Homo sapiens: one gene and its partner. The protein of the gene in region 2 interacts with the protein of the main gene of each other region in a biochemical or structural test. Each region holds a gene or a part of one and is shown on either strand. Other genes may lie near its edges.

The links.
Region 1: the proteins of AKAP8 (region 2) and AMY1A form a complex in vitro, tested with the Homo sapiens proteins (one study listed by BioGRID).

What each region holds. Positions count from the first base shown.
Region 1 is NC_000001.11:103,654,533-103,669,637, reverse strand, and holds AMY1A (alpha-amylase 1A precursor), read right to left. Parts: upstream 13,879-15,105; 5' UTR 13,710-13,878; intron 13,354-13,709; 5' UTR 13,308-13,353; coding exon 13,140-13,307; intron 12,795-13,139; coding exon 12,648-12,794; intron 11,845-12,647; coding exon 11,647-11,844; intron 11,199-11,646; coding exon 10,968-11,198; intron 10,229-10,967; coding exon 10,095-10,228; intron 9,279-10,094; coding exon 9,156-9,278; intron 9,062-9,155; coding exon 8,962-9,061; intron 6,982-8,961; coding exon 6,863-6,981; intron 6,753-6,862; coding exon 6,627-6,752; intron 5,308-6,626; coding exon 5,118-5,307; 3' UTR 5,084-5,117; downstream 1-5,083. UniProt on the Homo sapiens protein: Calcium-binding enzyme that initiates starch digestion in the oral cavity.
Region 2 is NC_000019.10:15,369,587-15,385,396, forward strand, and holds the start of AKAP8 (A-kinase anchor protein 8), read right to left. Parts: upstream 10,202-15,810; 5' UTR 10,146-10,201; coding exon 10,127-10,145; intron 7,429-10,126; coding exon 7,390-7,428; intron 5,050-7,389; coding exon 5,017-5,049; intron 4,480-5,016; coding exon 4,200-4,479; intron 3,755-4,199; coding exon 3,265-3,754; intron 2,762-3,264; coding exon 2,632-2,761; intron 2,413-2,631; coding exon 2,366-2,412; intron 594-2,365; coding exon 560-593; intron 1-559. Other genes in the region: AKAP8L (A-kinase anchor protein 8-like), read right to left, coding at 10,536-10,844, 10,931-11,026. UniProt on the Homo sapiens protein: Anchoring protein that mediates the subcellular compartmentation of cAMP-dependent protein kinase (PKA type II).

The DNA of each region.
Region 1 (15,105 bases), on a different chromosome or scaffold from region 2:
CTAAGGACTGAGCAGTTTGGATACTCGTTTGTTAGAGTAAAATGGTTAGGTACCTAGTATCAACATAGGCACCCAACCTGATATTAATAACTAGGAAAATAAAGGGTTGGCGCCTCTGTGTTTCTTTGTTGAAAAATCTGATACTATTCTTAGTTCTATGAAAACAATTGAAAATTTGGTTATTATCACCTTAAAAGTACAAAACCTATAGATATTGAAAATGTAATTATTTTTCTATAGGCATAGTTGAAATGATTTTGTAAATGTTATAAATCAGTTTCTTTATAAGCAGTTCATTTACATAAATTTTGTTAAACTGACATGATTCACTAATTTTCTAAATATAAATGGTTCAGCTCTCAGTTATTTTTAAACTAATGACCTGTGTTATACTTACTATTTTTAATGGGCTTTTATGATGTTTTTAGGTTTCTTTGGATTCCCATGTCCTTCAAGTGCTTTGCAACTTTGAGAAGAAGAAATTGACCACCTGGACTATGGAACTGTGCATAACAGCTTTGAAAGTGTATTTAAAAATTAAATCCATACGCCTTTAAATCAGTAAATTGGAAATATATTACATGTATTGTAATGACTTTCCTCAGATATAATAAATTGTTTTCTTTCCAATGGAATAGTGTTTGCATTTTTTGTTTACCTGGTTTAAGATGTGCAGCAGAACATAACTAGATGATTACATAATTTCTTTTTAAGGCAATTTTATAATATATTTTATTTATGATTATAAAAACTGCCTTTAAAAATTCTTACATGGATATCAATGCAGTTTCACTTTTTTTATTGTAATCTTTTTTATAATTATTTTATACTTGTCTGGCATTGAGTTTTATTGGGCTTTTGGTTTTTTGGAAGTAGGGTATTTATCCCAATTTAGAAAATTTGTATCCTTGCCATAATACAGTCTTCTATTTTTGTACCCCCAAATCTTTCATCTGTCAGAACATCACTCAAAGGTGAAAATATTTCCCACATAAAATTATTCTGTTCCTTTAATGAAATGAGTTTCAGCTGTATATAAGTAGGAAAACTTCCTTTTGTTCTATTTGATTCCTTTTTACGGATACTTTCTTGAGGCTGTGATTACACCTTTACCTTAGAGGCACTGCCCAAAAAGACTCAGCTCTTCTGTAAAAATGCTGTTATGAATCATAGCTTCTTAACTTTTACAACATAGTGAGGTAGGGAAAGTAAGAACACTAGAGATAGGAATTAGATCTTGTAGGAAAATAATTATAAGATATCATGAAATATTTTGGAGTTTTATTAACATACTATAAACTTGCATCAATAATGCTTTAAATTTCTACCTCTCTGTAAGTCACACTGAAGTAGAAACTTTGTTTTCTAGGTTCGTATTTATGTGGATGCTGTAATTAATCATATGTGTGGTAACGCTGTGAGTGCAGGAACAAGCAGTACCTGTGGAAGTTACTTCAACCCTGGAAGTAGGGACTTTCCAGCAGTCCCATATTCTGGATGGGATTTCAATGATGGTAAATGTAAAACTGGAAGTGGAGATATCGAGAACTACAATGATGCTACTCAGGTAATTTTTTTACGAGAGTGATCTGAATAAAAGAGTAATATATGCCTTTTCTTGTAGACATGTAGCTAATTGAATTTCATTTAAAATAGGAATTTAGATCTCTTAGGGACAGAAGTTAACAAGTTTGACTACTTTAAGAAACTCAAATCCATATTTAAGAACTTTCAAATATTGATTTAAGATTTTTAATCAATATTTAGAGTCACAGATTTTACCTAAATTTTCAAAACCTACAGCACCACCTCATGAGATAGGATTTTTTTCTGCATAGAGTCTTGTTGGCCCTTTGCCAAAAACCTCTAATACCCAGATTTCTTCCACTTTTGTGTTCCTCTGTCAGCAAGCAGACTCTATGCCCCATTTGTAGGGAAAAAAACTCCGCATTCAACAGTTGGGAGGAAGCCACCCTTGAGAGACAAATTCTAGCCTCAGTGCTGTTCCCATCAGAAGGAGGACAGCCATTAAATCCATATGTTCTTTTGAGGCACCTGTTCTGCTTCCAACAACATTGGCATTTAATCAGAAAGGGGATTTTGTGTTTAAAAGGCAATGGGTAAAATTTTCTGGGAATGCACTGCTTTTCCAGGGCCATAGCTAGAGGAAGCAGGAATAGGGTTAAAACACTCCCTCTGTTAAAGTGTCTCACCCAACTTTATCTACTGTACAATCTCCTGGGAGGCCTAGGAACCCAGAAGGGCAGTGAGATGAGGCATTGTGCTGGTAAGCATGACTACCCCTGCCAACTAGCACCTCCAGATACATGGGTGCAATTCATGCTTGCATCCATGGGCTGCACCTATGATGGTTGCCAGGACCCAAAGGAGATGGGAGGAAAGAGAAGAGGGACACCCCTGTAATCTTTCTCTTCAACCTGGGTCACTTCAAAAGTTGAAAGGAGACTAAGGGACACCTTCTACTCCCCTCTTTTTATGCATGGGTAACACCCCATCTTCAAGCCTGCATTCCCCTTGAGTTATTCTTTAGACTTCAGAGCCTGAAGTTCGCTCTGGGCAAGTGCCAACTTCTCTCATGTATAGAGGCCTTCCAGGATATAACCCAAGTATTTAAACTCTCCTAGAAGGATGTTATGTTACTCTGAAACCCTAACTGCTGTTGAGAGACAGGCAGCCCTACAGGTAGCAGAAAAAATCAGAGATGAGCAGCATGTTTCCTATAGCCAGTCAAAAAGGGAAAGAGGGTGAGAAACAGGCAGAATCCCCATTCCCAGTAGGAAAAGAGGCAGTATCCCTTGAAAACTCTAATTGGAACTCTACTAAGCCCATAGATGATTGAAAAATAGAAACACTTTCAGATGTATACGGTAGAAGTCTTACAGGGGACCAGAGCCAAACCTGTTAACTACTCTAAGCTATCCATGATAGATCAAAACCCAGATGAAAATCCCTCAGCCTTTTTATAAAGGCTGAGAGAGACTTTGGCAAAACATGCTTCCCTATCTCGTAATTCAATTGAGGGACAGCTCATCTTGAAAGACAGGTTTACTCAAGCAGCTCCTGATATTTGAAGGAAGCTACAGAAACAGGCTATAGGACTAGAAGGCACCTTAGAAAACCTTCTAAGAGTAGCCACCTCAGTCTTTCATAAGACGTACTAGGAGGAGGCTCAGGAAAAGGAGAGAAAATAGAAGAAAAAGTCAGACAGAGGGTACCTTGGAATGGAATCCAGGCCTGAGACTCCTTGAGCTCACTGTTCAAGACACCCTCATAAACTGGTCAGTAACAAACTTTGCTGCATGTCTCCGACTTGTTTTATGTCCTTAAGCATAACCTGTAACCATGTGGTAGTACCACTTTTCAGCCGTTGCCTTTTTACAATGGTGACCCAGGTTCAATCCCAGCCTGGGTGATGAATACTTTCCAGTTAACAACTGTGTGACGTTTAATCATCTCGTGCTCCGCCATGAAAAACTCTAACTGCCTTTCTGAAATCTTCCTTTCTCTCAACTGACTTTAAAGGTTCTAGATCTGGTAAAAGCTGCTTACCACCACTTATAAAATATCTTGTATACTAACGGTGAACTTATAACCTAACGGAGAGTTTTTAGTTTCCCCTGTGATGTTACCTTTGGTAAAATTCAAAAGCCAGAAATATTACCTGCTTGATTTAGCTAAAGTCAGGAAACAGAAGATGTCAAAGGATTTTCTGAAAGGGTGCTGAGCTTGATTAAAAGTGGATATTCAAGTTATAGGTATATTTAAAAGACCTGCATGTTTTTGTCTTCTTGGATCGTGTTTTTCTTGAAAAGAACTTTTCCATTGACTGAATTACTGTTCTCCACTCTGTCTTTCCACTCTTAATGCACACAAGATAACTTCTGGTGGCCTGAAACGTTTTGGGAAAAACAGAAAATGCATGATGGATTCCATTTTGGGAGAAACCTCTGTTTTCCTCATGGAATCCCAGAATCTAGAGGCTGATCAATCCTGCTCAAAATCTGTTTTTGTCTTACAGCTATACAAGTTGATTAGGCCCTAGAAACTTCGTGGTTTGCTATCCCTGTTCTTAAAGGGCTCTACTGGGAAGCCAGTAATGCAATTAGGAAATGGGACGAGAAGAAATCTTAGAGCTACTGGATCTTCTTCTGTTTGTCTGTGTAGCAATATATGTGTTGTGTGTGATGTCTGTAACGAGGACCAATTGATTGCCTTAAATAAAAATAAGCACTTAAATCAAATATTTTAGAGGAAAGTTAAAACCGTAATGCCTTTTAGTTTATGTGTTTTTAAACTCTAAGAAATAAAAACTGTTTTAAAGATCAAATTGGAAAATGCAAATATCATCAATATGTAAATAGCAGGTTTAAATCACATAAATTAGATAAAAGGCTTGCTAAATATTTCAAGGTTGTAGGCTGCCTACTTTACAACTTGGTAAGGCCTGGGGACATATGAAATTAACCATGCCCTAACTAGAATGGAAAAAGTCAGACTTTATCTGCATCTAGTACATAATTAAAACAACTTACCAGGTTTACATTAAAGTTAAAAATTGCTAAGATTGACCATAAAAATATGTAAATAAGACAACTAAAAATAAATTTACATGCAAGGTGTGTAGGAACACTTAAATGTGTTTGTGGTAAAAGATTATAAAAAGGCATAAAAATGTAAATGTTGCCTATGGAAAAAGGATTCTTTTGAAACCTATGTAAGGGTAAAATTTGGCTTTCCTTCCCTTGTACAGATTTTTCATGTAATAGAGAAGAATAATGAAATATTTGGTTTGCCTTGTTGGTAGAATGCCAAGGAGAGAAAAGAGTAGACAGGAGACAAACTGTTTGGAAAGCTAAGTCTTACCTCTTAATGAGTAAAGATTGTTGCCTAGTTTTAAAATTTTTGAGTCATCCTTTTGCCAAAATAAATAACTTATGTGTAACCTGGAATTGTATTTCATACTATCAAGTGTCTTAAACCTCTTTTTACTAATTAGAGCTTTTATTTAAAATTAATGATATGTAACTATTACTGTATATGTAAGAAAAGAAACACACTTAGCTATTGCTTTGCGGATTTGCATTTAATTTTAAATTTTACAATTTAGATTCAGCATGAATTGCAATAAATGGATCTTCAGCAGAGTTACTAATAGAAAAATGAGCTTTGCCATCATCAGAAACGTAGATTTTAATGCCTGTGCAGTTGCCATTAATTTTATCTCCAGAAATGACATCACAGTATGTGCCAGCAGGAAGACCAGTTTGCAAAGTTAAAGAAAATGTCCTGTAAAATAAAATTTCAGATTTAACTTCAAAACAATGAAATCAAGAATACAGACTAACACAAATAAACAGCATAACTTTATGTTTTAGAACCCTAAGCAGTGAAGTCTCATTAAGAAGAAAACCCATATGCCTCCCTAGTAGGTGTAAACAGCTTTCTAGGACCAAAAGTAACCTTACAGAAAACCTACCAATTTCCTTTTCAGTAGTGAAAATATAACCGAAAAATCAAAGTTGAAGAATATCACCGAAGATTGGCGGGAGCGGTCACATTTTGATAAAGTGCTACCTTGGTAAAATCAAATTTTTTCTCAACTGAACTTAATGCCAATTACTTTAAAAATTTAAAGGGTATTATTTTTTTAACCTTCTTTTATTCTACATGAGGTCAAAAAGAATTTAGGGTGTACATAAAAACAGTCTAGCATTTGTATGAGGAAGTGATAGTTTGAAATATAAAGCTTTTTCACAAAAGATTTTTTTGGTATTTTCATCCACAAAAGAAGGAAACTAAGGAAATAGACACGCATTTTTTTGGCAGGAAAGAGATCAACTTGACTTATATATTTTTGTATTTATTTATTTTTCATAAGTGAAGTATAATTTATACTAGAGTGAGCTAAGTATGAGTGTCAGTTGGCCTTGGACAGAGACAATTCAACTGTTTGCAAGGAGGTCTTCTCAGCTACAGTTTCGGGAATCATTTATACTACAGCCAAAGGATACAAAAATCACAGATGAAAGGCCAATAATGAGAAGTTTCAGAACTAAAACTCAAGTCTCCTGAAGCAAATCATTAACCACAAGATACATATTATTTATCCATATGCTTTAAAAATGTTATTTGTCACAAGGAGACAGAGAAGTGAAGAAAGTATACCAAAAAACTAGGTAGAGCTGTCATTGAGAAAAAGAGAAATAAAGATATTTTAGTACTGAGGCAGCATTTTTCCATGATTAAAAGAGCAGGACTATAAGAAACGTTCTTTTAATGATTTCACAATCCTTCTATTAATTACTTTGTGTATTTTGTGGCATGTGTAGGTAAGCATATGAATGTGCATTCTATATATGCATAAGATATTGCAAGGGTGCACAGAAAGGATTCTGCTTACAACAGAAAGCACTTATGAAAACAGGAGAACGAAGGAGTAACAGCCATCATCCTTTTGCTTCTACCCAATTTTGATCTCTATTGTCTTCTCGCTCCACTGACTACATGATTTTTCAGATATGATAAATGTCAATGAACAGAAAAAAAAAAGAATAAACCAAGAACATACTGGTACAAAATATTATTTTTAATTGATATTTACTTACCAGTCATCATTGTTGAAAACAATGAATCCTCTGTTTCCTCTCCCAAAAGCCACTTGGTTGCTCCCATTATCATACCAGTTTGTAAAAGGCTGGCCATCCACTACATTGCGGAAATTAACCATGTTCCTAAAAACACAATACCATATAAAACGTTGATATTCTTAAACTTCAACTGTTTTAAATAAAGTGCTACGGAAATTTACTATTAGAGGACATGTCTAAATACATATTCTCACCTTATTTGGCGCCATCGATGTTCACAGACCCAGTCATTGCCACAAGTAGTGTCTGGATTAATAGTAACTTCTTTAGTTACTCCATTATCATTTGGTGGCCCAACCCAATCATTAACATCCTTAATTACAGGAGGAAAAGCCAAATTTTAGCATATATATATTTATCTCTTCCTTCTCCTTTAAACCAAACCCAACCTATCCTGTTACTTGTGTCTCTGCATTCAGTGACTTTATCTAGAATCCAATGCCTTCATTGATTTTTATAGCCCTTTACTGGGTCTTCATCATCTCTCTATCCTCTGGTTCTCTTTTGCCATATTTCAAACAAAGGTAGCAAATTGTTATCCTCTCCTTTTCATTCCAAGGCACTGCAAAGACTTCTTTGCTCTGTCACCCAGGCTGGAGTACAGTGGCATGATCGTAGCTCACTGCAGCCTTGATCTCCGAGGCTCAAGCGAACCTCCCATCTCAGCCTCCCAAGTAGCTAAGACTGTTGGTGTGCACCACCGCACCCAGCTAATTTTTTTTTTTTTTTAATTTTCAGTAGAGGCAAGGTCTTGCTAGCTTGCCCAGATAGGTCTTGAACTCCTCAGGTCAGCTGACCTTCTCAGCTGGCCGCACACAGTGCTGGGATTATAGGTGTGAGCCACTGCACCTGGCCTGCAAGGGCTTCTTAACATCACTGTAAGCCATGCAATGGCATTGAAATGGGAAGGGCATTAGTACTAGAAACACCAGGATTAAAACATAGGCTCTATTACTAGTAGCTGAGAAAATTTAATCAATATAAATAATTTCTCTGTGTCTCAGTTTCCTCATTTGTAAAATGAGAATAATGAGTTCTTTTGCTATAAAAATTAAGTAATATATGTGAAAATGCCTTGAACATGACATATGCTAAATAAATATTGGAGGCCGTCATGCTTCTTTTTAGATAAATGTACAAAATACTACATCTGAACATTTTTTTTTTATAAATTGACCATATTTTTAGTATTATGCTTTTCTGATTGGCACTTTAAGAAATCTTCATTAAAAAACACAGAGTAACCCTAGGAAGTTTATCAGTGTTCACCTTAAAATCACGTCATATGGTGAAAAGTGAACAAAACTTAAGAGTTTATAGCATGCAGCAGTCCTGTCAAAGTGGGAATGTTATAGTAATAGAAAAAATAAAAGAACTCTCTGACTCCTAACAACAGAAATAAGACCAATTAGTAGAAATTATAAGAAGTTGTCTCAATATAAAAGTACACCTTCTAAATATTAAAGCTGTTTAACAATAGAATCAGTTGTTATACATAGTAGCGGACTTCTCAAACTGAAAGGAATCTAAAAAAAGCTAGCTAGATATCTGTGTGACTCATAGGAAGGAGGAATTTCTGCTTTAGTTCTGAAGTCTCTGATGCTGTTTCTCAACCCTTTAGTTTAAAAGAAAACCTTCTACTAGCTTTCCAAATATCTTTACACTCTTATTTCTCTGTTCCTTTTTGAAACTACTCAGCAGAGTGATGTCTTTACCATACTCCCAAATATTTTTCTCATTCTTACCTTTCTTGGAATACTCTCTATAAATTTCTATCCTTTAGTACATACAATTTCCTTCCTCTTATAGTATACTTTCCCTATTTAACTCAGCTGAACTGGATCATTTGTTTCTATTCCATATAACTTTTTAACAGTATTTAAAAGACATTTATATTGTTCTCACTACGGGCAGATGATGTTTTAAGTTCTCTACAAGGGTTGGCATCTATATTCTTCCAATTAAACCTGAGGAAGGTACGAAGTATATATTTTAATCCCTGTGCCTAGCTCTTATTTTTAAGTGGTTTTTTTAATTTTTATTTTTATTTTCCCTGCGGGCTAGGGGGATGTTTGTCATATCTCTGAAAAAGCTTGCTATTCTTTTTCAATGGAGAATATAAAGTTTATTCCTTTAATATAACCTGCATTACTAAATCACAATCCTGTATCAGGTTTACAATAATTAAATATTTGTTGAATAAATAAACACTTAATAGTTGTCATATTAAATTAGGAGAAGATTGCCTCTTTTTTCTTGAGAAAAGGATATTTTGAACAACTCCAAAACTTACTTTTCCATTTTCAAAATATCTTGGCCAACGGTAGCTTGACATTACTCGTGTAAATCCATAAGGATGAGCAAGCATAAATCCAACTGCCATTTTGTACAGCCTGAAAGTTACATAATTATATTATCATAGAATATCACAATATTCATACCATCATTAAAAGAGGTGTTAAAAAAATAGAGAACTTGGTTTTTTACCTAGCATCCCAGAAGGTAAGTATAGAGGCTCCTCCAGCGCCATGTCCTCGTTGATTGTCATGGTTATCCACAAAGACAAGCGCTCTGTCAGAAGGCATGAAACCCCAACCTTCTCCCCAGTTCCTATTTTTGAAACATAAGATATACGTTGATGTATCATTTCACAATAGTTTGAGAGTAACTCTACTGTGCATCTCTTTCTGTAAGGCATGGCATCTGAAGATTAAATTCTTTCTCTAATTAGATGGTTACTCTGTAAGATATATATATATACACACACACACACAAACACACACTCACATATATATACACACACACCTCATAAACAAACACACGTGTGTAATCTACATATATATAGTCCATATTTGTATATACATGTATGGAATACTTATATTCATATTACAAATATAAAATGTTTGTTATTAAAAAATTTCCTTTCAGAGGTTTCAGCACATTATCATTTAGAGGCACTCCAGAAGGATCAATATCCACATCACATTATACAGAATGTCAAACTAGATTAAAATAAGGCTTTAATATTGTATTGTTATAATATAAATCATTTTACATTTCCAATTCGTATAAGTAAATACAATAGCATGGACACTTTGTACATACTTTATAAATGATAGGATCATTTTAATAATAACCTGGCTTTAAAAGATTATATGCAAACATCAGTCAAATCCAGTATATTCATCTTGTACGCAGACAGAAACTCCTAGGGTAAGTTTAGCGTTCCTAGGCATACTGTCTTGTGACAGACACTCTAAATACAAAAGATGATTGATTAGAGTTTAGGGCACTAGAATACTTATCATTAACAACTGACTCCTTAATAGTTGTCTGAATAAGAATGTTCCAGAAGATAACTCGCACTGGGGTAGTATGACTAACAGATCTATGAAATAGTTCAGGGGAAAAGTTGTATTTATTTACTTTAAGTAAGACATCTTCTCTCCATTCCACTTGCGAATAACTGTGCCGAGTTTTGCACCATACTTGAATTCTGTCACCCGGCCATTACCAAAGTAGTCACTGCTTTTAATTGGCTCACCACCCAGATCAATTACCTAGAAGAAATTTAGGAAAAAAAAACATTTTGCATAAGGACTTTAAAGCATTTTAACCGATAAGTTTATATTATATAAAAATTAGCTTTCAGCTATTTCTGAGTTATTTTAGACTTGTTGTGCTTTGTTCTTTAGAGACAGGGTCTTGCTATATCGTCCAGGATGGTCCCAAACTCCAGGCCTCAAGGAATTCTCCTGCCTCAGCCTCCCAAAGTGCTGAGTTACATGCAAGAGCCACCACGCCTGGTCCTATTTGTTATATGAAACGCTCAAAATCGTTTTCTTATTCTTATTATCTTCATCGGTAATATTCTTATATTCTTTTTTTGATAAAGTATACACTACAATATTGAAAGAAACATAATGTCAAAGTTACCTGTTGTCCTGTGAGAATACTTACCTAATTTTTAGTCTTGTACATCAATGATAATAATAACAGCTCACAGGAATACGATATTTACTATCTGACTGACTTTTTTTGATAAATATTAACTCATTTCATTTTCCAAAGAAAATAAAGACATAACTATTATCAGTATCCTACATTCTGTGTACCTCCATAAAACCTGTTGTGATAAAGAATTAGATATGCTGTATGTGAAGAAGAGGAGGTTAAAGAACACTGTTTTAAGGAAATGACTCAGTCTTTATCCTACAGAAATTGCATTTTTAATTGAATCTGCCGTGAATTTTCTAATGAATAGGATGATATTTTATATGCCTATATGTATTGACGTACCTCCTGGTAAATGAAAGGTTTACTACCTTCCGGGAACCAGTTACTGTTTAGATTATGCAGTTTGTCCAAAATTGCCTTTATGTCTCCAGGCCACATGTGCTTGGAAGCATCAATTCTGAACCCTGCAACACCAATGTCAATGAGATGGTTCATATATTCGGCAATCTTAGAACGCACATAATCCTTCCCCAGTGCAAGATCGAGAAGACCAGACAGACGACAATCTCTGACCTGTTGAGGTAAGAATGTTATGATTGATTAATAAAACCTCACTTTTCGCCTGAGAATCCATTTGATTATTCATTTATTCCATGATTCCTCAAGAGATATTCTATGGTGACTTCCTTGCATTGGACACTGGGGATGCTCACATTCTACTATAGATGTATCTTGGAAATATTTTCTAATAGAAAATAGAGAACTTAGGAAATAAAGTCGATGAGTTTTTCAATTGGTTGGGAGCTTTTTAAAAGTGGACAAATGTGTATTGATTAAAAATCTTAAATCAATATTTAAAGGTTTTCAAATATGGATTTGAGTTTCTTAAAGTAGTCAAACTTGTTAACCTCTGTCCCTAAGAGATCTAAATTCATATTTACAACGAAGTTCAATTAGCTACATGTCTACAACAAAAGGCATATATCACTCCTTATTCAGATCACTCTCGTAAAAAAATTACCTGAGTAGCATCATTATAGTTCTCGATATCTCCACTTCCAGTTTTACATTTACCATCATTAAAATCCCATCCAGAATATGGGACTGCTGGAAAGTCCCTACTTCCAGGGTTGAAGTAACTTCCACAGGTACTGCTTGTTCCTGCACTCACAGCATTACCACACATATGATTAATTACAGCATCCACATAAATACGAACCTAGAAAACAAAGTTTCTAATTCAGTGTGACTTACAGAGAGGCAGAAATTTAAAGAATTATTGATTAAATTTATAGTGTGCTAATAAAATTCCAAAATATTTCATACCTTATAACTATTTTCCTACAAGATCAAAAATCAACTGTGAAAGGAAAGTAATGTGAACTAAACACCTACATTCATTCCAGACACTTGGCCAAATATATATAGGAATGATAAACTGAGAGAACCGGAAACTACCATAAATAGGAGGAAAGGCAAAAAGCCCATTTTGGGGAGACACAACTCAGATGAGACTGAAAAGGTTACTATTTGGGAAATTTCAGTGGGTCACCAGGAGAAAGCCTGTACTCTCTACTAAGCTTGGAAGACAAATAAGGTAGCTATTCATCTCAAATTCTGCTCCTCATTAAATAGATAAGCTACCTATTCACCACAAAAAAAACCCAAGAATTAGGAATGGAGACACAAGTCATCTAAAAATGAGAGCAAATATTGTAACTGGAATTAAAATTCCTCACCAGAAAATCCTTCCAGGAAATATGGATAGTTATAGCGGTTAAAATTTGATGTTTTGCTTCAGAAGTAAACTCTGCTATAAACTTTAACTTATCTCTTTAGTAGAGAGCACATATACAAATATTTTCAAAAATTGAACATAAGGTGACAGTTACTTTTGAGTTTTAAAGTATGAAGTAAAATTAAAACTGATATGGAAAACTTTCTGCTCAAAAGGAGCAAGAAAGAAGAGACAGAAATCATTTTCCTATCTGTTATTTTTAAAGGAAACTAGAATTCACTTACCCCAACATTGTTGCATCTAGTCACCATGTTTCTAAATTCATCTTCATTTCCAGATCTTGTGCATAATTTATAGCTAACTGGTTGGTATCTTTCCCACCAAGGTCTGAAAGGGTTGTGAATGGCAACATTTTCATTTGGTGGAGAGACCTACAAATTAAACAGTCTTCATAAGTACCAAATTCTGTCTTACTGTATATCATTGAATGTTCTAGAATCTAATCAATAATACAAAAGATTCTTGAATCTTGGTATAGGCAGCTATCTCTTGAAAATATTAACAGCACATCGGAGGGCTCTTGTTGAAGAAAGATTATATCAGAAACAAAATATACAGTTGCAAAGAATACTACATTGTTTTTTCCTCAGAAAATTCTTTTACTTAGAATACTTACCTGTGAAGTAAAATGTTGCCCAAGCTTCACGTAGAAGATCAGAATAGTGTTTACTACAAGCACAGTGAATTCTGCAATTGATACTATGAATCATACCCACCTGAACCCCTCCAAATCCCTTGGGAGCTAAATATCGCTCACATTCAAGAGCAATATCAACCCATCGCCATTCAAACAGATGAACAATAGATGTTCGTCCTTGTTGTGTATTTGAGGAATACTGAGCCCAGCAGAACCCAATGGTGAAAAGCAACCAAAAGAGCTTCATTTTGCTTTGAAGTTGTCAGTGTCCTTTCCAGAAACTATTTATATTCCTGTAAGAAGCACATTTTACAATGTAAATAGTAGCATGAATAAATACTTGAGGGCAAACTGTTTATTCATAATCTGAAAAGGATTATCAATAATAATCCTAACTGGTGAAGAACATCAAAAAGTCTCTCATGGAAATCATCTCAATGACCTCTTAGACATTAATGTTTCTTTTCTTTTCTTTTTTTTTTTTTTTTGCATATGGTAGCACTTTTATTTTTCCTTACACAATGACATGTTGCTGTGGCCTAATGTTCTCACATAACAGCAGAAAACCAAAATTTGTTGTCAACTCTTAAAAGATCGAGAATTGCATACTAAAAAACTTTACATAAATTAAAAGGATGAATACATTTACCGGTATAAATGCGAACCGCTTCCAACTCAAGGCAAGTAACAGCCCACGGTGCTCTGGTAGATAACGTAAGCTAAGAAAGGAAACTGGGTCCTATGGCTTGGACTTTCCAACCCTGACAGACCGACAAGACGGAAACAACTGGTTCAGGAGCCCTTCCCAGCCTCTAGATAAATCTCAGAACACTCAGCCCTGACACATTAATACCCTGCACGGATCAGAGACTGCTGACCACACAGACTCACCAAGCCAGACTTGTCTTCCACAAGCACGTTTTTAGCCATGAAGTGACCAAGCCACGTGTACTAAACACTGACATCAAAGGTATGTACAGATACCAAGGGGAAGAGTTAACTTGAATGCCAGGCCAAAATCAGCAACAAGTTCTACAATCCAGTGCTGATATTGAGAAGAGAGAAAGACCCTGTCCTCTTGTTTTATATTGTTTTCTATTCAGTAAAAACAACAAGGAAGCAAAATCAAAGGCACAAAACCAGGCCTGGGCCTGGTTGGCCTAAACCCAGTAGTTACAAATCAACTTATGATTTAGAAGCCGATGTTATTCATAGATTCCAGACATTGTATAGAAGAACATTGTGAAACTCCCTTCCATATTCTGTTTCTCCCTGACCACGGGTGCATGTAGTCCTTGTCGCATATCCCTGGCTTGTTCAAATCAATCACGACCCTTTCATGTGACATCTTTAGTGTTGTGTGCCCTTAAAAGGGACAGAAATTGTGCACTTGGGGAGCTCGGATTTTGAGACAGTAGCTATCCGATGCTCCCAGGTGAATAACACCCTTCCTTCTACAACTCGGTGTCTGAGAGTTTTGTCTGCCGCTTGTCCTGCTACATTTCTTGGTTCCCTGACCTGGAAGCAAGATAACTGATGGACGGCCGAGGCAGCTCCTTAGGCAGATTAGGCATGCCTTGTGGAGTAAGGCCGGGGCATCCCTCAGGCTGCCAGGGACTCTGGCCAGCCTGAGGGATGGGATCCAAAGAGCGCTCCCAGGTAGGAAATGGCCCCGGTTGAACGCCTCGCCAGAGCAGTGATCCCCGCGGAGGATTAACACAGTGGCTGAACACCAGGAAGGAACTGGCACTTGGAGTCCAGACATCTGAAACTTAGTAAGACAAGTCTTTTCAACTTGCCCCACTCCACCTGAGCGGAAGCTTGGCCTGATCGCTCATGGTGTGCCTGCACCCATATCAATTTCCATATAGAGATTCCTAGTTACAGCTAGTTTTAGATCCTCTACAGTGGTAAAAGGACAGGCAGCAGCAGTAGTAGTAGCAAAGGGACATTTATTTCAGGAAAGTTCTCGCTCCACCGGCCAAGAGAAGCCAGCACCTAAAGTTCTGTTTGACCCAGAGCTCGAGGACTCAAGGCAGGAGATG
Region 2 (15,810 bases):
AGACCTGCTGAAGGGCGCCCGCCTCTCAAAGACCCAGTGGGCCTGGGTGCTCCCGACCCCGCAGGTGTCTGCTGTCACACACTCGCAGGCACGAAGCAATGTGCAGTGCAGCTGCCAGTATCCCCACCACAGAGGCCCACAGCACAGCCCAGGGCAGGCGACTGAAGGAACTGGACAAAAGGAAGCCCCAGAGAAAACACTTCAGGGAAATGCACTGGCCGAGGAGGGCACAGAAGATGGGCTGGGGGCCTCTTCTCTCATGTTTCTCCTTCCCTACAAACTTCGACTGTGGTGGACACCCAAGGCTGCCCCCCATCCCCACTGCAGCCCACATCGGGTCAGGCAGACAGACCCGTTTCCAGTAAATGCTGCCCCAGACACTTTGAAGCAAAGTGTTGGCTGATCGCCACGGTCAAGGCCCATCTGGTGGCTGCAGCCCCTCTTCCCCCACAGCCACGGGCCCCTCCATCCAGGCCCCTGGCTTGCTCAGAAGCTGGGCAGTAAGTGCGGGGCAGCTGGGAAGACACAGGAAAGCTGCAAGGGACACGGTGATGCCTACCTCTTTGCCTCCCAGAGTCGCAGAGTTCATCCTCCTGGAAAAGAGTATACACAAAGTCCGGCAGTGAGCTGGTGTGTCCAGACTCTCCACAACCAGCCCAGTCCCTGGCCACTGCCTGGTGGGCAGTCTCACCCAAGACCTAGGTTGCTATGCCACCAAGAATGAGCCACAGTGTGTTAGGACCAGCCTCCGGGGCTCAGGACAGGGCCTGTGTGTCCTGTTATTACTCCTAGTTGCCTTCAGAGATTCTGTGACAATCACCTTGCTAAAAAGCCATTCACCCACCCTCTCTCGGTTCCTCCTAAGCTGCAGAACTGCCTGCCCCATGACAAAGACCCACCCGTACAATTCTATGAATGGAGCCTGTTCACCAACCGTAGGGAGATAGAGTCTCACTTGGGGGATGCCAGTTCTGGCATTCTTCATAGAAAATGGGTTCCACCACGTTTCCCGAGCTTTTGTTTATATTTACCCAATGTCTTTTTTTTTTTTTTTTTTTTTTTTGAGACGGAGTCTCGCCCTGTCTCCCAGGCTGGAGTGCAATGATGCAATCTCAGCTCACTGCAACCTCTGCTTCCTGGGTTGAAGCAAATCCTCTGCCTCAGCCTCCCGAGTAGCTGGGACTATAGGCGCATGCCGCCACATCCAGCTAATTTTTGTATTTTCAGTAGAGACGGGGTTTCACCATATTGGCCAGGATGGTCTCAATCTTGTGACCTCGTGATCCACCCGCCTTGGCCTCCCAAAGTGCTGGGATTACAGGTGTGAGCCACCGCGCCAGGCCTATATTTACCCGATGTCTTAATAACAATCACGTATAGATAAAAACGATTCAACTGAGAATCTGAACAGAGCTGACTCCTTAGGCAGTGAACATACGGCTAAATTAACAATCAGCAGGTTTACAGAGATTCCTAATCTCAAGACCAGCAAAATAGGGATCAAGTGAGACTCTGAAAACCTGAAAAGCCACCATCTCCTGCCTGTTCCCTGCCTGTGTGACTCTAAGGACTTGGGGAAGGCCCTCCTTCCCACTCTGGACCTCCAGGCCCTACACCTCCAACTTGGATCAGAATCTACACTGGGGTGGCTGAGGCACCTCCCCAAGAGCTTGGGGTGGTCCCGGCTATGAACTGGCCCCACGTGCTGCCTGCCTGTGCCTTGTTGTGAGGATGGAAGGATGAGGACACCAGTCAGCGGCACCCGGCACGGAGCTGGCGGCAAATGAGCCTCCAGCCTGTGCTTGGAGGCTTCAGCCCACAGTCCCTGCACTTACTGGCCTAGAGACCAGGGAGAGGAACTGGGAGCTTTTTTCAGAAAAGGAATGTTTGTTGTAAGTTGAAAACTTTTTTTTTTTTTTTGAGACGGAGTCTCCCTCTGTCGCCCAGGCTGGGGTGCAGTGATGCAACGTCAGCTCACTGCAACCTCCACCTCCCAGGTTCAAGTGATCCTCCTCCCTCAGCCTCCCAAGTAGCTGCTACTACAGGCAAGTGCCACCACTCCTGGCTAATTTTTGTATTTTTAATCGAGACGGGGTTTCACCATGTTGGCCAGGCTGGTCTCCAACTCTCGACCTCAAGTGATCCACCCACCTGAGCCTCCCTAAGTGCTAGGATTACAGGTGTGAGCCACCGTGCCGGCTAAGGTGGAAAACTTTTAGAAATCTAGCTAAAAGTCAGGGTCCTGAATCCACTCAGAGGTAGTCAAATCTACCATGGCAGCTGCTCCTGCCCCTTTGTGAGGAAGGGTGATTAAAGAAAGAAGAAATCCCACACTAGAGGCAAAAGGGCTGCCTGGTGGACTTACACCCTTGAATTCTTCATCTCCTGAGCGGAAGTCACCAGCTGCGTCATCTGCCAGACACAAAGAAAGGAAAAGTCAGTCCCCGGAGAACGGTCCCATCCGGTTTCCGCCCTCCCAAGCTCGCCATCCAGGGTGAGTCTGCCCTGACCACAGTGGGGTTGAAACATGCCACCTGCGAGTGTCCACGACACAGATGGGGCAAGCAGAGCCCCCAGCAGGCAGCCGACCCATCCTACATCTGTCTGGCCCACCTGGCCCCCAGGACATACCATTTTCGGAGAAATCTCCTTCACTGTCAACCCGGGCCAGTTTGGTGTCTGGCTCCTCGTAAAGTTGGAACTGCTTCCGTTTCCTGCCCGTGCCATCTGGTCCGAAGCGGTCAAACCCTCTCCTCTTGGGCTACAGACAACAAGCACACCCCATGAGCTACTTACGAGGGCCATGAAGATGCCCCACAGAAAAGAACAAGGAGGTTGTAGGATCAGACAACACAGGCACAAAAGGTCTTTTCAAAAAGCAAAGAGACAACATAATTTGAAACTAAAAAGAAAATCATGCTGAGTGAAAAGAAGCCAGGAACAAAAGGCCACACGTTTCGCGACTCCATTTGTGCAAAATGTCTAGAACACACAAATCCAGAGACCAGTGGTGGTTGTCGGGGGCTGGTGGGGGCGGGGAAGAGACAGGGGTGACTAATGAGAAGAAGTTTCTCTTCTGGTTGACATAAATGCTAAGATTAGACTGTGATGGTGGGGATGGTTGCACAATCCTGTAAATTAACTAAAAGTCGAACTGCGCACTTAAAAACATTTAAGTGAATGTTGAGATGGGGAAATTTTACCTCAATAAAGCTGCTAAAAAGAGAAGCGAAGGCGGCCGGAAGGAACCTTGCGAGGGCTTACCCGATCCCGATCCCGCATCCGAGGCTGCGAGCGGCCACATCCGTAGGGCATGGTGCTGTCATAGCCGCCCGCCCCCTGCATGCCCATCACGCCGTAGTCGGGAGCCATGGACTGGGAGAAGAGGGACGGAGGTGGCCGGCTGGGGGAGGGCCCTCCCAGGCCCCGTCCACCCACGTAGTTCAGCTCGTTCCAGGGCGTGGACAGGGGCTCAGAGGACGCAGCGGGGGGCACGAAGGGGTCGCTGCGCATGAAGGTGCCAGGGTTGCTCCGGTCCTGGAAGCGGCCCTGGCCCCGGCCCCGCATGAAGCCATCAAGGGAGCCCCGCTCCCGGGCTGGGTCTCGGCATTCACTGTACTGCCCCCCAAAGCTGCCATTGCGGTCGGACCCCAGGTCGAACTCATAGTCGTAGCTGTAGCTGGGGCGGTAGGGGTTGTGCTCCGGCAGGCAGGGCCTGGAGTCATAGGACTCGAACGGCTGGAAGCGGAAGGAGCTGCAACAGAAGCACAGCCCATCAGGGGCGGTCACCCCGATCACCCACTGCCACACTCCCTCAGTATAACCTCGACGCCCCTACATTCAAAACAGCAAACCAAACCACCCTGCATCCCACCTAAGTGCTGGGATGACCAAAACTGACCAACACCCTCCCTGGAACACTGCTGAGCAGGGGACAGAGCCCCTGGCCACAGGAATAGCATGATGTAGAAAAAAGGAGTCTCGGGGAGCTTAGCCAACAACCACGCCCAAGCCCCGCCATGAAGAAAAGCAAGGAAGTCCTACTGTAACATCACTGACCCCCCACGAGCCCAACTCGTCAATGCCACACCCAAGAGGGAGGCGGGGACAGGCCCTCCCTCAAGAGTGGGTGCCCACTCCCATGCGCACAAAGGTGGGGATGTGTGGGGTCCCGGGGGAGGGCTTGGGTCCATAATCACCTCTCCCGGTCCTGTATGCCCTCCCCACCGCCGCCGCTCCCGCCCCTGCCTCCTTCCTTGGACATCATGTCCAAACGCTGGTTGATCTTGGCAATGAGGGAGTCGGAATTGTCGGTGCATGGCTCTGGGCCGTAAGAGGCCATGTGCATGGCAGGGGCCCCGGCCGCCAGGCCGCCATCATTGGCCTTGGCGGCCTCCCACGAGGCTGGGCCGTAGCTGTAGGTTGCGCCTGTGGTGACACTGGTGTTCTGGGCGCCATAGTAATTGTAGTTTTCATAACCTGTCACAGGGGGAGGAGCCAAGTCAGACTTCAGCAGCCACGAGGCCTGTCCATGGTGGACACAACCGGGGAGGGGCACCCGCTGCCACGGAGAAGGAAAACGGGTGTGGGACCCAGTGCTGCTGGCATCACTTCACACTGCACTGTGACCTGCCAAGAGGCAGCAGGAGGTGGCCAGAGAAAGGGGCAGCCTCAGTGCCGAGCGGCGGGTTTTCCATGCCAGACGCTAGGACCTGTTCCCCATTCAAAGCCGGGTGACTGAGAGCCTGGGAACAGCAGTTCCGGCTGCTGACAGGCCCCACAAAGGACCGCTGCTCCCAAAGCACGGTCGCAGTCCTCCCCATCATGCTCCCCTGAGGCCGCCCACCACAGCCCTCTGCAGTCCCCCCATATACACAACAGCAGCCGTGGCTGACTGCGTCCTCAGGAACAGAGCCAGAAAGTCCACGCCAGACCTCCCTGACGGGCTGACCCGCCTGGCCTTCAGATCAGAGGCCCACTTGCCCGCCCACAGACCCCCCCCACAGAAGGGCTTACCTTGCCAGCTGGCCACACCAGTTCCATATGCACCTTAGGGGAAACAGAAACACACAAGAGCCCTGTTTGCAGAACGAAGGCACTGACACCCCAGCTGTCACCTTGCTCCACCCTCCACAGCCCCAGGGCCAGGGCTTCCCTCCGCAGCGCTCAGGGAGACACCCTTGGGTGTTTTTAGCTCACTCAACTCCTACAGAGCACTAGGCTGAGAGGCTGAGCACAAGCAAGCCCTCTATCCCGGGCAAGGCCAACCGTCCGTCAGGGCAAGGGAAGGGACGCCGCACGCTCCCCAGGAAGCTCGTCCACTGTGGGCTGCTGGCCAAGAGGTTGGCCAGGCCAGGCCCCAGGCAGAGACCTCGTAAAGGGTCAGTTCCCATCAGAAGCCAGAGTGCAGGCGCTGCCAACTGCACAGCGAAGCATTGGTGCAAAGTCACGTCCTCAACTCAAGCGAAAAAGAGGACGTTATGTGCCACGAGCGACTTGGAAGGCCTCCTCCTGAAACACCGGGTGGTGGCTCAAAAGCAGCCCCACTCCCCATGTTGCCTGAGTCAGATCTCAGGCTCAGAAAACAAAGGAAGCCCTCGTGCCCTAAAACACGGGCTGGCAGAAAGGAGAAAGCCTCGCCAGCAGAGAGCATGCACTGGTTCGCCACACAAGCCTAGCATCATGGCCCTGACTCTAAAGCAGGGATCTGCAAAAAGTCCAGCCACACCCAGCCCACTTCCCGCCTTGGCACAGCCCTTAGGATTTTCGAATTTCGGTGCCCATAAATAAGTACCAGCACACTGCCCGTAGCCCTGTGCTCTCAGGCTCTGCCCTCAGCTAAGGATGAATTTTACGTTTTTAAATGGTTGGGGTAAAGTTTCTAAAGTGTATTCAATGACAAATTTTGACATGAGATACATCACTTACACACTGGATCAAAACTCAGAGAACTATACAAATTAACAAAAACTATGAGCTATAGTGAATAATATCACATCAACATTGCCTGATTAATTGTAACAAATGCATCACACCAATGCAAGATTTTTTTTTTGTTTTTTTTTTTTGAGATGGAGTCTCGCTCTGTTGCATGGGCTGAAGTGCAGTGGCGCGATCTCGGCTCACTGCAAGCTCCACCTCCTGGGTTCACGCCATTCTCCTGTCTCAGCCTCCGGAGTAGCTGGGACTACAGGCGCCCGCCACCGCGCCCGGCTAATTTTTTTTGTATTTTTAGTAGAGACGGGGTTTCACTGTGTTAGCCAGGATGGTCTCGATCTCCTGACCTCGTGATCTGCCCGCCTCGGCCTCCCAAAATGCTGGGATTACAGGCGTGAGCCACCGTGCCTGGCCTTTTTTTTTTTGAGACAGGGTCGTGCTCTGTCACCCAGGCTGGAGTACAGTGGCATAATCACAGCTCACTGCAGCCTTACCTCCTGGGCTCAAGCAATCTTCCTATCTCAGCCTTCTGAGTGGCCGGGACTACAGGCACGCACTGCCACGCCCCACTAATTTTTCATTAGTTGGATAAAAGGATCACTTGAGCTCGGGTCTCGAACTCCCAGGCTCAAGTGAGCCTCTTGCCTCAGCCTCCCAAAGTGCTGGGATTGCAGGCGTGTGCTGCCTCGCCCAGCTAATGAAAGATCTTACTAATGAGGCCAGGCGTGGTGGCTCACGCCTGTAATCCCAGCACTTTGATTATGGGATTGATTATGAGGTCAGGAGTTCGAGACCAGCTTGGCCAACATGGTAAAACCCTGTCTCTACTAAAAATACAAAAATTAGCTGGGCGCAGTGGTGGGTGCCTGTAATCCCAGCTACTCGGGAGGCTGCGGCTGCAGTAAGCCGAGATCACACCACTGCACTCCAGCCTGGGCAACAGAGCAAGACTCTGTATCAAAAGAAAAAAAAATCATACTAATGAGATTTTTAGTACACTCACTACAGGTGTAGTGTACACTCAGTACACCTGAGTGGAGGTGGGTGGGCGTATGAAACTCCACTACTCAATCTAAAGCTGTACTAAAAAGTCTGGTAATTATAGAGAAAAAACACCTCGGATATACCCTCAGCTATTTACTCAGAATAACAAAAATATTTTGCCAAAATAGAGTATTCACTAACACGCAAAAATTAGGAACTTCAAATTGTATTGTCTGTAAGTAACTACTGGCATTGTCCCATCCACTCTTTCACACATTTATGACTGCTTTCCTGCTACAGAGACTGTGGAGCCCATAAAGCCACAAAGATATTCACTATCTGATCTTTTACACAAAGTTTGCTGACCCCTGGGCTACTACTCTCCCTTGACCCAAGTTCAGCTCTGCCATGCTAGGGCCTTGAGTTAGGGGAAGCCCACGCCTCACCCGCAAAGCAGAGCCCACTTACCCTGGGTGTTGGCAGGTCCAGCACTCCACGCCCCGTAGCCTGCAAGAAGACCCCGTGAGTTAAAATTCTATTTGTCACACCAGAGAACGGGTCCTTTTGGGGGTACTCCTAAAGGGATCTCCTTACAGTTCAGTGCCAGCCTTAGAAGAAGGAAGACTCCCCCCCACCCCACCAAAAAAAAGCCATCACACAACTGGCTAATGGCGTCATCGCATTCCACCTGGCTGAGATCAAAGCAGAAAAAGAAGGGTGGGAAGTGGGCTTGGAAGTCAGCTCCGCCCTGCAGAGGGACCTTGGCCAAGGACCTCACCTCTCCAAGATTTCATCCACAACTGAGGCTAACACAAGACAATCCACTCAGCATGAGGACACGTTCCCCCACCCACCACACAGCTAGGAAACCAGTTCAGAGTGCCATCACAAGTACTTCGTAACTGAAAACAAGCATGGGAATTTAGTGACATAAATTGCATCTTTCTAAGCTGCACTTCCTGCCACTTTTTGTTTTTTTGAGGCGGGGTCTTGCTCTGTTGCCCAGGTTAGAGCGCAGTGCCGCGATCTCGGCTCACTGCAAGCTCCGCCTCCTGGGTTCACGCCATTCTCCTGCCTCAGCCTCCCGAGTAGCTGGGACTACAGGCGCCTGCCACCACGCCCGCCTAATTTTTTGTGTTTTTAGTAGAGACGGGGTTTCACCATGTTAGCCAGGATGGTCTCGATCTCCTGACCTCGTGATCCGCCAGCCTCGGCCTCCCAAAGTGCTGGGATTACAGGCGTGAGTCACCGCGCCAGGCCCTTCCTGCCACTTTTAAGGCCTCCACGGATCCCCTGGACCTTTAAGTCCCAGAGCCTTCGCCTGGCCCTAAGGCATCAGACAGCACTCTTCACCCCTCCACACCCCCCGCCCACTATGGCATCTGTCTGGTCCCTCCAGGAAGGAGAATGGGAACTGTGTTCTCTTTATTTCTGTGTCCCTGGGGCCCAGCACTGAGCTGCGCGCGGGTGGCCACCATGCCTGTTAAATGACTTCACTTTGATGAGGCAGGAACATATCCATGTCTCCCTCACCAGAACAACTCCCCCGCCCCCGGCTAAGTGCCTAGTGCGTGCCGATACACCGCAAGCACCCAGCAAACCCTGTTGTCCGGAATGCCATTCAGAGACAAGGGAGCTAGGCTCATGGGTTACGAGACTTGACCCAGTCATACTGCTGAGTTTTGCCCTCTGCTATGCTACGCCTTCCCCTCCGTCATACCGCAAAACCTTCTAAATTCGCATCCGTGCAGCAGAAAGGCAGACTGCAGATTCCAACAGCAAGTAACCAACCTCGAGAGACTGCTTCTCTGTGAAGCTCTAGTGTAAGTGGCACGCACTATTAACCTTAAAACGCTCCCGGAAACACAAGAAATCAGGGAAGCTTAACTATCTCCAGTGTGTCTGAAAGGTTTTCGGCAGGTAGGAAGAGGGGGTAAAAAAAACCTCTCCAAACTAAGAATGAAAAGAAGGAATACAATACCTGCAGAAAAGATCTGATGGGAAAGAAGGGAAAGAATGGTGAAATCTACCCAGGCTGCGGAAGACCAGGAGAGCCAGGCTGAGCCTTCGCTAGGACCCGGAAGACACCAAAGCACACCGCGCACGCTGCCGCCTCAGGACCGAAACCTCTCTCTGCAATTTCTGGTGCTGGGATACTTTTGCCCTGCCACTTCTCAAGATCGACAACTTCTCGAGCTCCTGCAGCCAGGATCAGACCACTAGCTTCTCTACAACCAGTCGAGCTCCACCCAGCATGTCCCAACTATCCCCTGTGGGCAAACTTTGCTCCCAAAAGGCTCTGATTCCAGAAGCAGGGAGCAGGCAGCTCGAGAAGATCGGCCCTACTGCAGGCCAAGCGCTAAATCCTAGTGGGGAAAGGACACGTTCCCTCCTGCACAGCCCCTCGGCCCCTCCAGGCCACCACAACAGACTGCCTAAAGGAGAACTGCCAATGTCACCAGCCCCAGGGCACATCAGGTTTCCAGCTTTATACGAACACTCAGCATCTGCCCCTCACCATCCTGTCCCAAGCCAGCACGCGCCGGGTACAGAGCTGGAGCCCGGCGAGGCTGACTCTCGCGCCGGCAGCACTCGGCCCCACCGCGCTGCACCGGGGACTAAAGGCCCGACCCCGCGCAGCCCGACGGCTTCCGGGACAGGCGCCCTGGGCCACGTGAGCCCAGCGGAGACCCTACACGGCCCCGCGGGCCTAGGGCAGGTCGGGAGAGAGGCGGCCCCCGCGGTCCGCCCGCGGCCCCAGACCCAGCTCCCCGGGTCCGACCTCACAACCCCACGCTGTAGCTCCGCCCCCCTAGCGCCGCCATTTTGTGGCGTCTTCGGAAGAGGAAGCCGGGAGTGCAAACCCCGGGGTCGCTGGGGGCCGGAAGGACTCCGCCGAAGGTGAGGGGCAAAAACGGCCCACACTGTCTAAGACGCCCCCACGAAGCCCACCGCGGCGTCTGCCCCAACCCCGAGTCCCGCCCGCCTCCTCGGGGCCTGGCGGCCAATCCGCACGCAGAGCCCCGGGAGCGACGGCGCCAAAGCCCAATGAGCGGCGCGCGCGCGCCCTGGCCGCCTCTCCGGAGGGCCCAGCTGGGGCAACCACGCTCGGGACGAAGGCCCGGCCGGCGGCAGTCTGCGCAGCGGCTGCGTCGCCCGCACAGAGCCTTCCCTCCCCGCTCCGCACCCAGCAGCCAACACAAACCTCCGTAGCCCTGGTCCATGTCTTCGACGCGGCCCACCAGCAGCCCCGTTTACTAGGCGACCACAGCACGCATGCGTTCAGCGCACCTCCGCCATCGACTACTGGAAGACCAGGCGCACACGTCACTACTTCCGCGCGCCCCCATTGGCTGGTCTTCACGAGGGCCCGCCCTCGCCGTCCCAGCTGGCCTTTCGGGCTGCTACGATCCAGCTCCGTGGCCTAATGGGAGTTGTGGTCCCACCGCGGTGCCCGACGGCCCGGCCCGCGCGCATGCGCACCCCGCCCCTCTGCCCACCCCGCCCCGCCCGCGCGGCACAGTAACAGAGAAACCCGGAGGTGGGATGGGAAAACTTTATTAGGTTTGGTTTCCAGCTTCGGCCACGCGGGCTCCGCCCGCCCCGAGCTCGGGTCACGGGGCGCCCCCGCCGCCCTCCTCGTCGTCCTCCACGTCGAGGCCCGGGATGCCGCGGATCTGGCGTTGCAGCGCCCCTCCCAGCAAGGGCACGGCGCCCTCCTCCTCCTCCTCTGGGGGCGGCGGCGGTGGCGGCGACACGGCCCCGGGGGCTGGCTCTGGGGGCACGGGAGGCTGCGCCGGCACGCCCTCTGCGCCCTCCGAGATCCCTGCCGCTTCGCCCTGCGCCCCCTCGTCCAGGGCACCGCCCTCAGCCTCCTCCTGCTCCTTCTCCTCCTCGGGGCTGTCGGTGAAAGGGTTCTCGCCCTGTGGGGAGGGGCGCGGACACTGAAGGGAGGGAGCACAGGCGGGGACTAAGCTGGGGACAGGGCAGGCCCGGACCAGTGCCTCACCTTCAGGTAGCGCTCCAGCTTCTTGCTGATGAGCTTGTTGTTGAGAATACTGCGGGCCACCATGAGGGAGGACTTCTTGGACTGCTCCATCATGAGCTGCGGGCAGGGCAGAAGGAGCTGGAGAGGCTGCTCTGAGTGCCCTACAAGTTGCTGCCCCGACCCTGCCAGCTTAGAGGGACCCCACCCCGCCCCTGCACCCACGCACTTCCAGCCCCACCAACGGAGGGCCACTCCACAAGCATGGAACCACAACCTATCTGATCTTTGTTCAAATTCCCTCTCCTTCCACACCACACTTACTGTAGGTAAATAAAAATACAGATCTATATATCTCTAACTTTACGGCTGTATTACAGAAATCTGATTTGCTTACAAAAAAGCTATAAGCAGTGAACAATTAAGAAACTAAGAGCCAAAGGTGGGTGCAACCTGTAACAAGGTGCCAACTAGGCTAATAGGCAAGGAGCACTTTGGGGCCAACGGGGAAGATATAAAAACAGGAACAGATATTTAATGAAACGTCTTTTTTAACCCACAGAATTCCAAGAATGAAGAATTATTCCCAGTCATGCAAGGGTGAAGAGAGTCTTCTCTGCTGGTGGGAGGATCAACTGTTTCCGTATTTTTTGGAAAGCAGTTTGACACAATGTATGAAAAGTAAAAATCTGTCTCATTAATCCCTTCCCAGAACGTATCCTAAATTTAAGAACTGGAAACATGCGTGCACACTGATTGTAGTGGTGAAAAATGGGAAAACACCTAAACGTTCCTCAGTGCAGAAGAGGTTAAATAAATCGTACATTCAAAAGAACATCATGCAGCCCTTCAAATCGGGCTCATCTCTGCACTGGCATAAGAAAGGTGTATAATATAGTACTGTCTGCAGAGCATGCCAGAGCCATTTTGTCTGGAAGGATTTCCATCAATATGCTGGGCCATCTCATGGTGGGAGTACAGGCAAATCTCACTTTGATCATTATAAAAACCATAAGGTAAAAGAAGGATATTTTTGGTGGGGTGGGAGAGCCCATTGAGTCCTTCCCACTCCATTTACATGTTTCAGAAAGCCTTCTCACTTGCTGTTTCTACTCTCTCCATCTTCATTTTTTTTTTTCCTTAGCACGTTTTCTCTACTACTGGAGGAAAATATTAACAGACATCATACATGCTCACAATAAACTAAAGATACACAATTAGGATACTACTATAGACCGTTCCCCCAGTGACTCTCACTTGCCAACAGTTTATCCTCCTGGTTCTAGATGCCCAGATAACCACACCATAAATTCTCCCAAGTGAGGCACATTTATGTTGCTTCCAGATCTTCTCCACAATAACCCAGCAACACTAGAATAAACTTGTACACTTCCATGCTGGTGCTTTTCATTCTAACCAGGTTTGGTTTCAAAGTGATAGTGCCCAATTAACTGCAGAACATTTGCAAGTCATGCTTCTTCCACCTGTGTTAAAACAATGACCTGGTCCTCCTGCCTGCCCATCAGCACTGGATGTTGTCACTGTTGGGTATTTTTGCTGTGGATAAAAGACAGAAGAATCTGTGCTGCTGCCTCCCACGGCATTTCCCTGCCCACCGGCGAGTGAGTGCTCTGGTAAGCACACTGGAACACCCGCCCACAGTTTATAATTTTCTAACTATTTTCTGATCTTGGTTTTCATTTTTCACATTTAAATTTTTTTTTTTTTTTTTTAAGACAGTCTCGCTCTGTCGCCCAGGCTGGAGTGCAGGGGCTCTCAGTTCACTGCAACCTCCGCCTCCCAGGTTTAGGCAATTCTCATGCCTCAGCCTCCTGAGTAGCTAGGACTACGGGCACGCACCACCACACCCAGCTACTTTTTTGTATTTTTAGTAGATACAGGGTTTTCCTATGTTGCCCAGACTGGTCTTGAGCTCCTGAGCTCAGGACCTCCACCCATCTCGGCTTCCCAAAGTGCTGTGATTACAGGCGTGAGCCACCACGCCCAGCCAAATTTTCTAGAATTTGATACAGATTGAGTATCCCTTATTCAAAGTGCTTATGACCAGAAGTCTTTCAGATTTTGATTTGCATTATACTTACCAGTTGAGCATCCCTACTCCAAAAACCCAAAATCTGAAATGCTTCAATGAGCATTTACTTTGTCATGTCTGTGCTGAAAAAGTCAGATTTTACTGGGCACAGTGTCTCGTGCCTGTAGTCTCAGCTACTCTCATGAGGCTGATGCAGGAGGATTGCTCAAGTTCAGGAGTTCAAGGCTATAGTGTGCAATGATTTCACTTGCGACCAGCCACTGCACTCCATCCTGCACAACATGGCAAGACTCAATTCTTTTTTCTTAAAGAAAAAGGTTTTGGATTTCGGAGCATTTCGGATTTTCAGATGACGGATGAACTCAATCTGTATATGTTATGAGGTAGAGGGTCCAAAATTTTCTTTTCCAGAAATGTACAAAACACACCATTTATTTCCCTACCAAATTGGCATATAGGTCTACCATCCCTTATCTATAAACTGGAAATCCAAAAGGCTCTAGAAAACAAGTCTTCCCCCAAAATTCATTTGGTGGCTAAATGTGAACTGACATTACATTTTTCATTTATATGTAAGTCATGTGAAGAATTATTTGTGACTCAACTACAAGGCGCTTTCCCCAGATCCTGTTGGAGAGGTTAGTGCTAATACCATATTGTCTTTCTTTTTATTTTATTTTAGAGATAGGAGTCTCACTCTGTTGCCCAGGCTGCACTGCCATTGTGTGATCACGGCTCACTGCAGCCTCAAACTCCTGGGCTCAAGTGATCTTCCCATGCTAGCCTCTTGAGTAGCTGGGACTATAGGCACTCACCACCATGCTTGGCTAATTTTTTATTTTTTGTAGAGACGAGATCTCACTATGGTCAGGAACTCCTGGGCTCAAGCAATCCCACCTAAGCCTCCCAAAGTGCTGGGATTGCAGGTGTGAGCCACTGCCCCCAGCCTTGCATATTGGTTTTCTGAAGCTGAAAAATTAATTCTGAGGCTTCTGGCCCTAAGGTTTCAGATAAAATATCTGTACTAACTTTAACAAATTACTAAGTCTGAAATATACTGAGATCTTTTGCTAGACTCTCTATTCTGGTTCCACTGTTTCATTACTGTGCTAATTATCACTTTTTTTGTTTTTTAATTGCAGCAGCTTTGTAGTAAGTTTTAGTATTTCTGAAATCAATCTCTCAGCTATTGTTAGACTGAATTTTACAATGTAAAACTTTAAAATAATTTCATTTCATTCAGTCCTACTCCCCGACTGATATTTTTGACTAGAAATGTGCTGTCTATATTAATTTGGAGAGAACTGGTTTTTGTTTTGTTTCACTATTAAATTGCCTATTTAAGAACACAGAACATTCCTCCATTCATTAAGGTCTATTTCTTTTTTTTTTTTTTTTTTTTTTTGAGATGGAGTCTTGCTCTGTTGCTCAGGCTGAAATGCAGTGGCATGATCTCAGCTCACTGCAACCTCCACCTCCAAGGTTCAAGCAATTCTCTGCTTCAGCCTCCCAAGTAGCTGAGATTATAGGCACCCACCACCCCACCCGGCTAATTTTTTGTATTTTTAGTAGAGACAGGGTTTCACCATCTTGGCCAGGCTGGTCTTGAACTCCTGACCTAGTGATTCACCTGCCTCCGCCTCCCAAAGTGCTGGGATTATAGGCGTGAGCCACCGTGCCCGGCTAAGGTCTTATTTCATATCCTTGGAGTATTTGCAGTTCTTAAAAGATCTCAAGCCTTTCTTCTTCCCTCCCTGTTTTTTTTTTTTTTGAGACGGAGTTTTGCTCTTGTTGCCCAGGCTGGAGTGCAATGGCGCGATCTTGGCTCACTGCAACCTCCGCCTCCCAGGTTCAAGCGATTCTCCTGCCTCAGCCCCCTGAGTAGCTGAGATTACAGGCGCCCACCACCACGCCCAGCTAATTTTTTGTATTTTAGTAGAGACAGGGTTTCATTATGTTGGCCAGGCTGGTCTCAAACTCCTGACCTCAGGCAATCCACCCGCCTCAGCCTCCCCAAAGTGCTGGGATTACAGGCATGAGCCACCATGCCTGGCCCTCAAGTCTTTCTTCTTAAATCTGTATTCTTAGCTATTTCATACATTGTGTGGTTATTTTAAGTAGTTTTTTTTCCATTTAAATTTCTAACTGGTTAATACTAGAATAGAGAAACACTACGACTTTTTGTACGCTATTTTGAATCCCATCCCCTTACCAAATTCTATTAATTCTAAGAACATTTTGCTGGGATCATTCAGCTTTTCTAAGAGCATAATCACATTATTTGCACATAAAGAGAGTTTGCATTATACCAATAATATTGCTAGATTTTTTGTTTTTGTTTTTGAGACGGAGTCTCGCTTTGTCGCCCAGGCTGGAGTGCAGTGGCGCGATATCAGCTCACTGCGAGCTCCGCCTCCCAGGTTCATGCCATTCTCTTTTTTTTTTTTTTTGAGACGGAGTCTCGCTCTGTTGCCCAGGCTGGAGTGCAGTGGCGGGATCTCGGCTCACTGCAAGCTCCGCCTCCCGAGTTCACGCCATTCTCCTGCCTCAGCCTCCCAAGTAGCTGGGACTACAGGCGCCCACCACCACGCCCGGCTAATTTTTTGTGTTTTTAGTAGAGACGGGGTTTCACCGTTTTAGCCGGGATGGTCTCGATCTCCTGACCTCGTGATCCGCCCGCCTCGGCCTCCCAAAGTGCTGGGACTACAGGCGTGAGCCACCGCGCCCGGCCTTTCATGCCATTCTCTTGCCTCAGCCTCCCGAGTAGCTGGGACTACAGGCGCCCGCCACCACGTCTGGCTAATTTTTTGTATTTTTAGTAGAGATGGGGTTTCACCGTGTTAGCCAGGAT